Linked DNA regions of Homo sapiens. The protein of the gene in region 2 purifies or fractionates together with the protein of the main gene of each other region. This does not show direct contact. Each region holds a gene or a part of one and is shown on either strand. Other genes may lie near its edges. The genes, in order: NIPSNAP1, PPP1R3B, PPP1R2 and PPP1R7.

Evidence for each region.
Region 1: the proteins of PPP1R3B (region 2) and NIPSNAP1 purify together in Homo sapiens (co-immunoprecipitation; one large-scale study listed by IntAct). This does not show direct contact.
Region 3: the proteins of PPP1R3B (region 2) and PPP1R2 purify together in Homo sapiens (co-immunoprecipitation; one large-scale study listed by IntAct). This does not show direct contact.
Region 4: the proteins of PPP1R3B (region 2) and PPP1R7 purify together in Homo sapiens (co-immunoprecipitation; one large-scale study listed by IntAct). This does not show direct contact.

Annotation. Positions count from the first base shown.
Region 1 is NC_000022.11:29,564,077-29,567,648, forward strand, and holds part of NIPSNAP1 (protein NipSnap homolog 1), read right to left. Parts: intron 1-3,572.
Region 2 is NC_000008.11:9,135,683-9,138,206, reverse strand, and holds the end of PPP1R3B (protein phosphatase 1 regulatory subunit 3B), read left to right. Parts: 3' UTR 1-1,952; downstream 1,953-2,524. UniProt on the Homo sapiens protein: Acts as a glycogen-targeting subunit for phosphatase PP1. Facilitates interaction of the PP1 with enzymes of the glycogen metabolism and regulates its activity.
Region 3 is NC_000003.12:195,519,276-195,522,847, forward strand, and holds part of PPP1R2 (protein phosphatase inhibitor 2), read right to left. Parts: intron 1-3,572. UniProt on the Homo sapiens protein: Inhibitor of protein-phosphatase 1.
Region 4 is NC_000002.12:241,167,435-241,171,006, reverse strand, and holds part of PPP1R7 (protein phosphatase 1 regulatory subunit 7), read right to left. Parts: intron 3,332-3,572; exon of another isoform or gene 3,270-3,331; intron 1,227-3,269; coding exon 1,140-1,226; intron 1-1,139. UniProt on the Homo sapiens protein: Regulatory subunit of protein phosphatase 1.

The DNA.
Region 1 (3,572 bases), on a different chromosome or scaffold from region 2:
AGGAACAGTTTTGCCATCCTGGGAGCATGGCTGGGCCCATCAGCGGAGGAAGGTCCCCAGGGGATCACACAGGCAAGCTAGAGCTAAGGGCAGCTGGCTGCCAGCAGTCTAGAAACTCAGACTCTGTAACTTCCCATCCCCATCCCCAGCCTGACCTTCACCTGTTTTTTGACTCCATCTGTGCCTTGATTTTCCCATCTGCAAAATGGCCTGACCCTATGGTTTAAAGGTCTTTTTCCCAAAGGAAATGGCAAAAGTACTGTATGGATAGAAATCTACCAAAACCAGGAATGACCTGTGGAAAACGGATTAACGGAGAAAAGTTACAAGGACAGCATCATTGGCAAGAGGAAGGAATTTTCTTTATTTTTCTGTCACCCAGGCTGGAGTGCGGTGGCGTGATCTCAGCTCACTGCAACATCCACCTCCTGGATTTAAGAGACTGTCCTGCCTATGCCTCCCAAGTAGCTGGGATTACAGGCGCATGCCACCACGCCCAGCTAATTTTTGTATTTTTAGTAGAGACAGGGTTTCACCTTGTTAGCCAGGCTGGTCTTGAACTCCTGACCTCAGGTGATGCACCTGCCTCAGCCTCCCAAAGTGCTGGGATACAGGCATGAGCCACCGCGCCCAGCCAAGAAGAAGGAATTGTCTAACAACTGTGGTGCTCTCCATAGGAGATGGATCAATGGTTCTTACAAGTTTATTAAAATGTAGATTCTTGAACCCTACTCCCAGCGTACAGCTCAACATGATTCAGCTGACTATGTGAGGGACTGAACTTCAAGGTACAAAAAATGTAGGGTATGCTTTAAAAAGTCAGGATCAGCCAGGCGCAGTGGCTCAGGCCTGTAATCCCAACACTCTGGGAGGCTGAGGCAGGAGAGGAGCACTTGAGCTCAGGAGTCTGAGATCAGCCTGGGCAACATAGCAAGACCTCATCTCTACAAAACAAACAAACAAACAAAACAAAACAACTAGCCCAGGCATGGTGGTGCATGTCTGTGGTCCCAGCTACTCGAGAAGTTGAGGTGAGAGGATCGCCTGAGCCTAGGAGTTCAAGGTTACAGTGAACTATGATCATGCCACTGCACTCCAAACTGGGTGACAGAGCGAGACCCTGTCCCAAACAGAAAAATAAAAAGAAGAAAAAGGCCAGGGGCAGTGGCTCACGCCTTTAATCCCAGCACTTTGGGAGGCCGAGGCAGGTGGATCAACTGTGGTCAGGAGTTCGAGACCAGCCTGGCCAAGATGGTGAAACTCCATCTCTACTAAAAATACAAAAATTAGCCAGGCATGGTGGTTCATACTTGTAGTCCCAGCTACTCGGGAGCCTGAGGCAAGAGAACTTGCTTGAATCCGGGAGGCAGAGGTTGCAGTGAGCTGAGATCACGCCACTGCACTCCAGCCTGGGCAACAGAGTGAGACTCGGTCTCGAAAAAGAAAAAAAAGAAAAAGTCAGGATCCCATCCCTCAGAGTTCATTTCACAACTAGCAAATGCTTAAGAGAATTCAAGGAATACTGCTGGAGCTGATCAAGTCAAGCTTAAAATGGGAAAGCTGTAGTGGCTGAAACTGAAGGCAATTTGCTTTTCTCTTATTCCCTTAGCCACATATCAGTGTCTAGCCAGGTATGATGGCACACGCCTGTAGTCCCAGCTACTCAGGAGGATTGCCCGAGCCCAGAAATTCAACTCCAGCCTGGGCAATATAGTGAGACCCTGTTTCTAAATGGAAATAATAAAAATAAAACATAAATAATATGTTAATGTCTGTTACGGAAACCAAATAATTGATTAAGGAGATACACCTATCTATCTGCAGGTCACAGATTATTTTCAAAGACACGATTATCAGGGCTGTCAAAGGATGAAATAGATTGGCTTACAAGTGAACTCTTCATGGCTAGGAGTGTTCAAGGGAAGTTTAGAGGACCATCTGTTATGGCTGTGCTATGCAGACACTCTAAACCAGTACTGTCCAAAAGTACTTTCTGCATGAGCCTGTGTGTATATGAGTGAGCATTTGAAATGTAGCTAGTATGACTAAGAAACTGAATTTTTTCTTTTTAAAATCTTTTCTTCTTTTTTTTTTAATATGTATTTTCTTTATAGAAGCAAAGTCTCACTATGTTGCCCAGGCTGGTTTCAAACTCCTGGCCTCAAGTGTTCCTCCCACCTCAGCCTCCTAATCTGCTGGGATTATAAGCATAAGCCACCATATTCAGTCCTGAATTTTTTCTTTTTTAGAGACAGGGTCCTCACTGTGTTGCCCAGGCTGGAGTGCAGTGGCTATTCATAGGTGTGATGGTATTCAATCACGGCCTCGAACTCCTGGGCTCAAGCAGTCCTCCCAACTCAGCCTCCCAAGTAGCTAGGACTACAGGTGAGCACCTTGGCACACAGCTTGAACTTTAAATTTTATGTAATTTTAACTAATATAAATTTCAATAGCTACATGTGAGGCCAGGGCGCAGTGGCTCACACCTGTAATCTCAGTAGTCCAGGAGGCCAAGGCTGACGGATTGCTTGAGTCCAGGAGTTCAAGACCAGCCTGGGCAACATAGCGAAACCCTGTCTCTACTAAAAATATAAAAAATTAGCTGGCTGTGGTGGTGCACACCTGTAGTTCCAGCTACTTGGGAGGCTGAGGTGAGAGAATCATCTGAGCCCGGGAGGTCAAGGGTGCAGTGAGCTGTGATTGCACCACTGCAGTCCAGCCTGGGAAACCAGAGTGAGACGCTGTCTCAAAAAAATAAATAAATAGGCCAGGCGCAGTGGCTGATGCCTGTAATCCCAACACTTTGGGAGGCTCAGGCGGGAGGATCATGAGGTCAGGAGTTCAAGACCAGCCTGACCAACATGGTGAAACCCTGTTTCTACTAAAAATACAAAAATTAGCCAAGTGTGGTGGCACACGCCTGTAACCTCAGCTACTCAGGAGGCTGAGGCAGGAGAATCACTTGAACCCAGGAGGCAGAGGTTGCAGTGAGCCAAGATTGCACCACTGTACCCCAGCCTGGGTGACAGTACAGAGCGAGGCTCCATCTCAAAAAAATAAATAAATAAATAACTACATGTGGTTAGTGGCTATCATTTTGGACAGTGTGGGTCTGAATTTGAGGTCCCTTTGAGTGGCTGAGATGCTGTGAGTCAGCCAAATTCATGTGTGGGTTCTTATAGCTGGTGCCAACTTTGATGTGTCTATTAGGCTGGGATGGGGCATGCTAGGGGTGCCCCTGGGACTGTAAGACACCAGCTCAGACAAGAAGAACTCCTATTTATTCCACAAATATGTGCTGCATATTGGGGATTCACCCATATATGGAGACAGACAACTAAACAGGCAGCTATAGGGGTACATGATCAGGGCGTGAGGAGGTAATTACTGAGGCCTGGAGAGCTAAGGAAGGTGCCTGACCCAGCCCGCGTGGAGGAAATCTCGGCAGCCTTCCAGGAGGAGGTGACATCTATGCCAAAATAGAAAAGTGAATAGTCCAGGCACTGTGGCTCATGCCTGTACTCCCAGCACTTTGGGAGGCCAAAGTGGAAGGATCGCTTGAGCCCGGGAGT
Region 2 (2,524 bases):
ACTATTAATAGCATAAATCGAACTCAAATGGAAGCAAAACTGATTTCATGCAGGTCCTGAATTTTACTTTGCCTTAAGAAGTGCCCTCCCCACAATGCAGGAGAGGCACAGAGTGCACTGTCATTGACATGTTACCCGACTAAGGATCACTCTGTTCATAAGAAAAAGGCCTGAAGTGACTCTGTTTAATAAAGTCAGTTTAATTTTATCTAATAATGATCTTAAGACATTCCCATGTCAAAATTTGAAATATGGTAATTCAGTGATAACTATCTCTTCTAAAGCAGCCGTAAACCCTCCCCACTACCCGTCTTTCTCCCAGCTCACCCTGGCTTTTTTTGCTGGGGGTGCTGGATGCAAGCCCCCAGCCAGCACACCTGGGATGCTCACCCTGCCGCACAGTTCAGAAGGCAAGTCCTCACCTGCTCGCAAAGACCCTTCTTCTCCAATAAAAGACTCTACTTGCCTGAGTTTCCTCATCAGGGCTGTCATTCAGTGATGTATGGGGGTCTGAAGAATACTGCCTTCTATCTGTCTTCTGTTTACCACTTGCTCCTCTGCTACCCTCCTGCCGCAAACAGTCTTCTTCCTTTTGGCCCAGTTCTGTCCCGTGAAATTCTCAGAAGGCCTCGGGAGCTGCGCTGATGTATTCTCTCCTTGTTTGATAGCTCATCATCAGTAGATAAGCCTACACACTTCAGAGGGTGACAGGTTTCTTACTTGGAGACTTCACTGCACCTTGACTTGTAGATTTGCCTTCAGACAGCTCTTGGTTATGGTTACAAGTGGCCCCCGAGTCCCAGAATCTTTCCCAGGTTGCCCCAGAAAGACCAGCCACCTGTCACAGGTGCAGTTGTCCGGCAATAGGGAAGCAACTTCATTTTTGTTTTATATTTATTCCCTCAAGTGCCCTGAGGAGCATTTGCAAACTGGGTACAATAAATAAGCTGGATTATACAAAGATATTTAATAAATAAGCTTTCAGTATCTATTGGAAGACATGAAGCATTTGAGTGGGTTTCTTTATTTAAAAAATTATTCTACTGGAGCTGGTGAGAAATAATGAAGCTGTACAGTTCTCCAGAAATTAAAACAATGTCAGAGTCAATGGGAGAATTTAATTTACCTTTAAGATTTCATTTTAATGGTGGCAAAATTATACATTCTTAGAAGATGTAAATTTGGAACTGTTAGGAGATTGCTCTGTGGTTTTGATCTTTTCAAACCATTTTCTTTTTGAAAAAAGGCATTAGTTGTAGTCATGGACATTAAATGGGCCATATATGCTTATCAATCAAAAAAGTGTTCCTTTTTTGGAACTGCCCATTTTCTGGATCTTCCCTCTCAATGGATAGGGGATGAAAACCTTGGTTGCCTTTTATTTGTTTCCTCTTCTAAAATTTCTCACCTGAATGTAGTCCTGGGAGAGTCCCGATCACGTCTCTCCTGACATGTTCACTGAAATCGGAGACAAGAAGTTACATGGATGATGGGATCTTATAGGGTCACACAAAGACAATTTGGCAGCTTATCTTAATTTCCTGCAGTGAGACAACACATGTGGAACTGGGAAGGACAGCTGTTGTTACGAGCAGTTTTTCCTGGTCATGGTTGTAAAGCTCTGTAACCCACATTGTAAAGCCGTGAATGTTTTTAGTCTTGTTGACGAGTTTTTAGAGACTGCTGGACCTCTGAGGGCTTTGAGAGTGCAGCTGTGATGATGTTTCACTATTACTTCAGTGTGAATGTAGAACCAAGGACTCATCTTCATTTTATACCTAAAAGTGCCTTGTCAAGAAATTTTTGCATGTTTTAAAAGATAAATATTTTTGTACACAGAGTTCAAGGGGAAATGCACTTTAAAAATCCCAAGAATGGATGTTCTTTGTGTGGTATGAGAGGTTGGTTTGTATCTCAAAAGCAAAAATGTAATAAAGGAAGACAAAACAAAACTGAAAGTGTCCTTCTATTCTTAGAGCCAGAGTAAGTGGAGAAACATTTCAAATCGATATGTTTCCACATGTAGATCTTAGGTTTCCAAAGAAAAAGCTTGCAGTCAATGGCTGAGTTAAATGTGCAAGGCAGAGAGGAGTTAATTGCTTTAGCATAGCTGAGAAGGTAAGTGCTAGGGAAGAGATACAGGAGCTAGTGTTATTCTGCACCCATTTTTAATGATCCTAGGTCATAGGCATTCTTACCCTGTCATTTGCACTTGAAGTACAGTGCAGACAGACGTATTCAAACAAAAGCAGGAAAACTATAAATGGCTACCATAGCTTTTAACTGCTTGAGCAAACAAACTAAGCAGCAAAACAAAACAGCCCCGGATAGGTAGCGGATAGTCACCCTAAGTGAGATTTCCAGAGCTGCTTTTTTCCAAAGTTCAGGACAAGATGCAGGCAGAGTGGGGGTGGGAAGCTGCATCTAGAAGTTCCATGTCAACAAGTCCTCTGCCACCCTGGGGAAGTGGGCGGTGGCTCCAGTGGAAAGGCAGAGTGTATTAAAGTTTAGCAGCTAGTGTGTA
Region 3 (3,572 bases), on a different chromosome or scaffold from region 2:
GCTCATTTGTTTTTGTCATGCTTAAGGCTGCTTTTGTGTTCAATGGCAGAGTTGAGTAGTTCGTAATAGAGACCACTGGGCCCTGCAAAATTTAAAATATTTACTATCTGGCATTCATCTCAATGGAAGAACAAGAATATATCCAGCCATTAGAAATTATATTTGTGAAGAAAGATTAAAGCTATGGGAAAATTATCCAGAAAGAGTTAAATGGTGACAAAAGAGCGAGTTACAACACCATATACTATATTTACTATGTACAATGCCTGTCACATACACACACAGAGAGAAAAATAAGACTCAGCAATTAACAGTGTTTAATTCTGAGTCAAGGAACAATGAAGTAGTTTTAATATTTTATTATTTTCTATTTTTATAATTAAGAAAAAATCCTTTAAAACAATTCTTACCTGTTAAGAAACTGCCATGATTTAAGACATTGTTGGCTAAAAACGTAACCTCATTTTCAGAGTAATTTTAAGAAAAACGTATTATAAAGTAATGGTGAAGTGACTCCAAAATATTTCATTTTAGTCTTCACCATAGAAACATAAAGCTGGCAGCAACACAACTGATCACACTAGAGCAACTATTTATGAATACATAATTTTAAGGTTTTTAACTTCCTTAGATCAGAAAATTAAAAAAAAAAAAAAACAACAGAAAAGGGGGGGCCAATATAAAATTGCCAGCTATTTTACCAATGAACAGCATTAAAATTATTCACCGTTGTTTTATTTTTTCTTTTTTTCAAGATGGAGTTTCACTCTAATTGCCCAGGCTGGAGTGCAATGTGCAATCTTGGCTCACGGCAACCTTAGCCTCCTAGGTTTAAGCGATTCTCCTGCCTCAGTCTCCCGAGTAGTTGGGATCACAGGCATGTGCTACCACTCCTGGCTAATTTTGGTAGTTTTAGTAGAGACGGGGTTTCATCATGTTGGCCAGGTTGGTCTCCAACTCCTGACCTCAGGTGATCCGCCTGCCTTGGCCTCCAAAAGTGCTGGGATTACAGGCATGAGCCACTGCGCCTGGCTTCACCATTGTTTTATTAAAAATTTCATCAAAATATTTCAATGTCAAAAATGCACAGAGGCCAGATGCTGGGGCTCATGCCTGTAATCCCAGGAGTTCAAGACCAGCCTGGGCAACATGGCAAGAACCTATCTCTACAAAAAAATTACAAAAAATTAGCTGGGTGTGGTAGTACACGACTGTGGTCCCAGCTACTGGGAAGGCTGAGATGGGAGGACTGGCTAAGCTTAGAAGGCTGAAACTGCAGTGAGCCGCGACTATGCCACTGCACTCCAGCCTGGGTTGACAAGTGAGACCGTAGCTCAAAAATTTATTTATTTACTTTTTAAAAAGCAGAGACATCTCTCAATAAGGGTATTTACAGTACTTTCTTCTTTTTTTTAAATTTTAATTTTTAGAGATGAGATCTCACTGTTGCCCAGGCTGGCTTCCAACTTCTGGGCTCAAGCAGTCCTCCTACCTCAGCCTCCCAAGTAACTGGAACTACAGATGCGTGCCACCACACCTGGCCTCCAAAGTACTTTCTCTTTGTTTGATTTTTACTAGAGACGGGGTTTCACCATGTAGGTCAGGCTGGTCTTGAACTCCTGACCTCAAGTGATCCACCTGCCTCAGCCTCCCAAAGCACTGGGATTACAGGTGTAAGACACCGCACCTGGCCAGTACTTTCTTAATTCCCTAAGCTTTTATCAACATCTATACTTATATTTTTAAAACTTATACTGAAGTCCGGGCGCAGTGCTCACGCCTGTAATCCCAGCACTTTGGGAGGCCGAGGAGGGCGGATCATGAGGTCAGGAGTTTGAGAACATCCTGGCTAACATGGTGAAACCCCGTCTCTACTGAAAATACAAAAAATTTGCTGGGCGTGGTGGCACACGTCTGTAATCCCAGCTACTCAGGAGGCTGAGGCAGGAGAATCACTTGAACCTGGGAGGTGGAGGTTGCAGTGAGCGAAGATCGCGCCACTGCACTCCAGCCTGGGCGACAGAGCAGGACTCTGTCTCAAAAAAAAAAAAAAAAAAAAAAAAGAACTGCAATAATTACCCAGTTTAGACAATAAAGTATATGAACATACAGTAAACATTCTGCCATAATGATTTATGTAATTTTAAAATCGTTACAAGTTGTTGAGTCATAATTTAATTCCCTATTTTTGGTTAAAGATTTCTGATTTCCTTCATGTTTTCAATGTTTCTTTTGGTTTGTTTTTATTTTGTGAAGGTATATCAGCAATTTTCAATGTTTTTAAGACTATATATATAAAATATATTGTGCATTTGTTCTATTATTTTCTCAGTATGAGCCAGTGTTTTTGAAACTGTGCATCATGATTATTTATGTACTTATTTATTTTTTTAAAGACAAAGTCTCACTCTGTCACCCAGCCTGGAGTGCAGTGGCATGATACCGGCTCACTGCAACCTCCACCTCCCAGGTTCAAGCAATTCTTGTGCCCCAGCCTCCCGAGTAGCTGGGATTAGAGGCGCCCACCACCATGCCTGGCTAATTTTTGTATTTTTAGTAGAGATGGGGTTTCGCCATGTTGGCCAGGCTGGTCTCAAACTCCTGGCCTCAAGAGATCCTCCTGTCTCAGCCTCCCAAAGTGCTGGGATTACAGGCATAAGCCACCAAACCCGGCCATCATGATTCTTAATAAGTCATAACTAACATTTAAAAAGGTTAAGGCAGACTATTTATATGAATACAACAAGTGAATTATTCTTTTTATACCTACTTTTACTTTTTATGGGGGAATATCTTAAGTTGTTAAAAGTTAGTATTTAGTGAGTGCTCACAATATGCCAAGATCAGTGATAAGTGCTTTAAATGCTTTAACTCATTTAGTAGTCACCAAAATATTTTTACAGCTGCCAATTTAGAAATGAGAAAACGGAGGCTCGGAGAAATTATGCAAATTAGCCAAGTGGCATACCTGGAGCACAAACTTAGGTTTGTCTGTCTTCTTAGACAATAATCTTAATTGTTATGCTGTGAGTTACAGTTTTTCTCCCTAAGCTATCTACTGTCAATAGACAACAATTTTTCAGCCACGTAACATCTATATAATTCAGTAATAACCCCACCAGTGGAAAATGAATTAATGAAATTATAATTAGTCAAATGGCTCCCCCTGCTGGTTGACTCATGAAATCACAACTTGAGAAAAACATCCCTCAATTAAAACTGACATTAACAAAAAATTCCTTATTCTCAACAGATCATGTTTTTAGAGAGTAATGAGGAAACAAACTCCAGAAACTATTTCTATTTGAAATACTTTTCAAGGATCTTTTGGGGTATATTTTGGGAAAATAAATGGAAAGTCACTGAAAGTTGAGATACAATACAACTTGAGAATATGCTACATGTAAAATTTCTCTCGTACAAATATTAGGCTCAGCCCATCATAGCTCTGTTGAACAGGCTATATTCTGAAGATGATAGGAAAGACTAGTAAATGATATCTTAGCAGCTACACGACAAAGATCCTTCGTTCTAAAGTTTCTCAGCTTCTTCACGGTACAGGAGGTAGTCCC
Region 4 (3,572 bases), on a different chromosome or scaffold from region 2:
CTTTGTGTTGTTCCCTGGCTTCTTTGCCAACTCCCTATGCACTAATTCAACCAGCCTACCACCAGCCACACCTTCCTTCAAGGGTGGGCTGCACATAGACCCACCTGGACTCATTGAGGCTCCCCCTGGCCTGGTACATCTTTATCACCTGCCAAATTCTGGCTCTGATCTTCCCAGACATGCTCTGGTATCCCATCATGACACTACTCAAGACCCAGTGCCACTAATAAGGGGCAAGGAACATTTGCAGCAGGCCACCTGTGTTCTAGGGAAACTTGGATGACCTTTTAAAGTGGGGAAAGGAGAAAGCACAGGACATAAGCAGGGTCAGCAGCACGGCTAGAGGAGAGACAAGGAAGAATGATGCCTTACACTCAGCATGAATCCTGGATTAGACTGAATGTATCTGAGGACACTACTACATTCCCAGCATCACAGGGTGACACCTGTGCCGCAGTCTCTGCAGGGCCACGTGCTAGCGGAAAGGCAATAAACCTTAGGAGATTTCTCTAAGGGAATCCTAGCACTGAAGACTTCCACTCGGGGATCATTTCCCAACCCCTTTAGAGGAACTGCAAAAACTTCTTATATTCTGTTTCTCTTCCTGCTGACTCCACAACACTACTCCTGAAACCATACCTGTGACAAGACAAATACAAGGCAAATTCCAAGATGACTAACTGCAGAAACCCATCCAACATTTCCTTCTGTTGTGCTGGAATATATCTGTAGGGAATGCGTCTGCCTCTCTGCTGAGGTTTGCAAACCATTTGGTCAAATGACAATTGTAGGTTCTACCCATACCTAGATCAGGGCTTCTCCAACCTTTGTGTGTACTGCAATCACCCGGAGTCTTGTAAAGCAAAGATTTTGACTCAGTTTTCATCTGGGCTATGGTGGGGCCCAAGATTTTGCATTTCTAACAAGCTATGTCAATGCTGCTGATCTGTGGCTCACGCTGAGGAGCACAGACAACACCCAATACAAGTCTACAAGAGCGCCCACCCCAAATCTCATGATGTGCGGAGTCACTCAGCATGAAGGCTTACAGGAGATTCTTGTATTCATTCATAAGACATTTTAATCAGTGAGACCAGTTTAGTCAAAGTGTCATCAACCCCAGCGTGTATTAAACTTACCCAGAACTCTTGCAGCTCTGTTAGATGGCTGATATTTTCAATCTTTTTGATTCTATTTGATGCAATGTCCAACATCGTGAGTTTGTTCTAAAAGAAGGAAATAAAATGTTTCCTGGATTACCTCTGATCAACAGTGATTTGCATGACCACGCAGGCAGTGTCAAGTGCTGACCTTAGGGCTGCAGGTGCACTGCCCTCTCTGCCCTCACAGGGTAAGGGCATGCTATGGAGGGTGACGAGACCTGCTTGCTTCCTGCAGCCCTCCCTGGGACAGTGTTTCCATCAGAGCCTGCCCAGCTATCTCCCTGAGCTCTCCTGATCGCTGGAATTTGAGACTGTGTCAGACTCCAAGCCCAGTCCTCCCAGATCCCTGTCCATTGAGACAGACCTAGTGAGACTGATGGTCCCAGGAAGAACCGAGTAACCCCCTGACGCTCTGAAGAAAGGCTGACAATTGTAGAAACATTTACTTAGTGCTCATCACGAGGAAATGTACGACCAAGTAATCTTCAAAACAAAGTTCCTCTCTTCATTTAGGGATGAGGAACTTGGGGCTCAGTGGGGCTAAGAATCTGCCCAGGCGCACAGTAGCAGTGGGAGAGGCAGGACTCTCAGACCCCAGGCCTACACTCTTGTCTGGGAAAAGGGTCCCGGGAGCATAAGTGCAGAGAAGGGACCCATGCTGAGGACTGGGTGCTGGGCCTGCTGAGCACCTGCTGCAGGGTGTGTGCCCCCACTGGGAGACAAGAGTGTGTTTTTAGGATCTTCTACTCTGAAAATGCACATCAGTTACTCACTTTCCAATACATGTTAGCTAAGCCTGAGTAATAATTTTGTTTCTCATCAAAAGGAAAACATTTACAAGCTGTCTGAGAACCTCTGACAAAGTTCATTCCCTTCTCTGCCCTCACGCTCTGCTCCCTCCTGAGTCCCTTCCTTGGTTTTCTACTGCATTTTTGGTATTCCAATTCCAAAGCCTTCTAAGTTTTAAGGGAAAGTTAAAAAATTTCTCAAAAGCAAATACTCCTCCCCCCATCTCCCCTGAAATGTACCCAGCCAGTAGCTTTCCCAATTCGAAAGCGCTATGGCTGTGGCCTGGGAGCTCCTCTGGCTGTACCACCCTTGCTGCCTTGGCGCCCAGCACCCCAGCTGGCACCAGCTGCGTGTGTCAAGTCTGACGCCACTCTCCAGCAGGCTATACGTGGCATGCTGCCTAGGAGGTGCCTTCAAACCACCCCATCTCGGTGCCCTGGTCAGGTCTGCTCACAGAGTATCAGGCTCAACAGTGTGCGAGGGAGCTCAGTGGGGCGGGTTCAGAGCAAAAAGGACTGCAGGAAAATGTTGCAGAAGACGCGACTGTGGGTAATCCAACGACACACCGCCTGGCGGTGGGGCTGGAACAGGCCTCTCTAGCACGGACGGCAGCTCTCCCCCGCACTCTGCACCATTCTGAGATGCTCATGGTCATCTGGTATGCAAGCCCAGAAACTGGCAAAATGAAAGTGGCCTGGAACACACGCAGGATTTGAGCCTCGTGAGGTCCAAGCACCAAGGCTCAGCACGAGGGGCAGAGCCGGTGGTGGGCTCTGGCTGTCAGAACCGGTCCATCACCTCTGAGCTCAGGGATCCATGTAGGCACTCAACACTATTTCACGTTTTTCTACAGGAGCTGGACAATGTTGTGAAAACTCATCCAAAAGCAAACTAGTAAGAACTGCTTAAGAAACAGAAAAAAAGAATGGAACAGGGTGAGGAGAGCAGGCACACCAAAGGGCATGACACAACGCCACAGAAACTACACCTGTCAGGGACCACTGCAAACATATTCTAGACCAACGGGAGAGCCCAGAGCTGGAGAAGACACGAAGAACAAGACAGGAGTCGTGAGACACTGGGATGGGGGGTGTCGTCTAAGTTCCCACCTGGGACAAAACTACATTTACTTTCTTATTTCCCACCATAAAAATAAATTCCAGATAAATTAAGAAACAAAACTTAGGAGAAAATATTTGTCTGATCTTTAGTTGAAAAAAATGGCAGAAGAAAGACTGTCACATTTGATCATGATGAAGATTACAATAACGTAATTACCTTTAATACAACAATTTTTTTTTTTCTGTTTTGTTTCAGAGGCCCAAGAATAATCTGGTGTTTAACCAAGATCACAGTGTAGCACTTCTACTGGTAAAATTCTGAACCACACTTCTTTCCAGTTTTCCTGGGACTGGCTGCTTATGTGAACTGTGCTGCAGATTGTCTGTCTCCCGGTGGATGCTTGGTGGTGACTGCAGGGCCTTGGCTCAGGGAGGCCAGGGTGCAGGAGGGCACCAGGGCTCCCTGCTGCGCACCCCACCCGGCCCCAACCCCAGCCCCTGCCACACAGTCCTCAGCGCCATTCCACTGCAGGCACGTCTCGACTTACCACTCTAAACT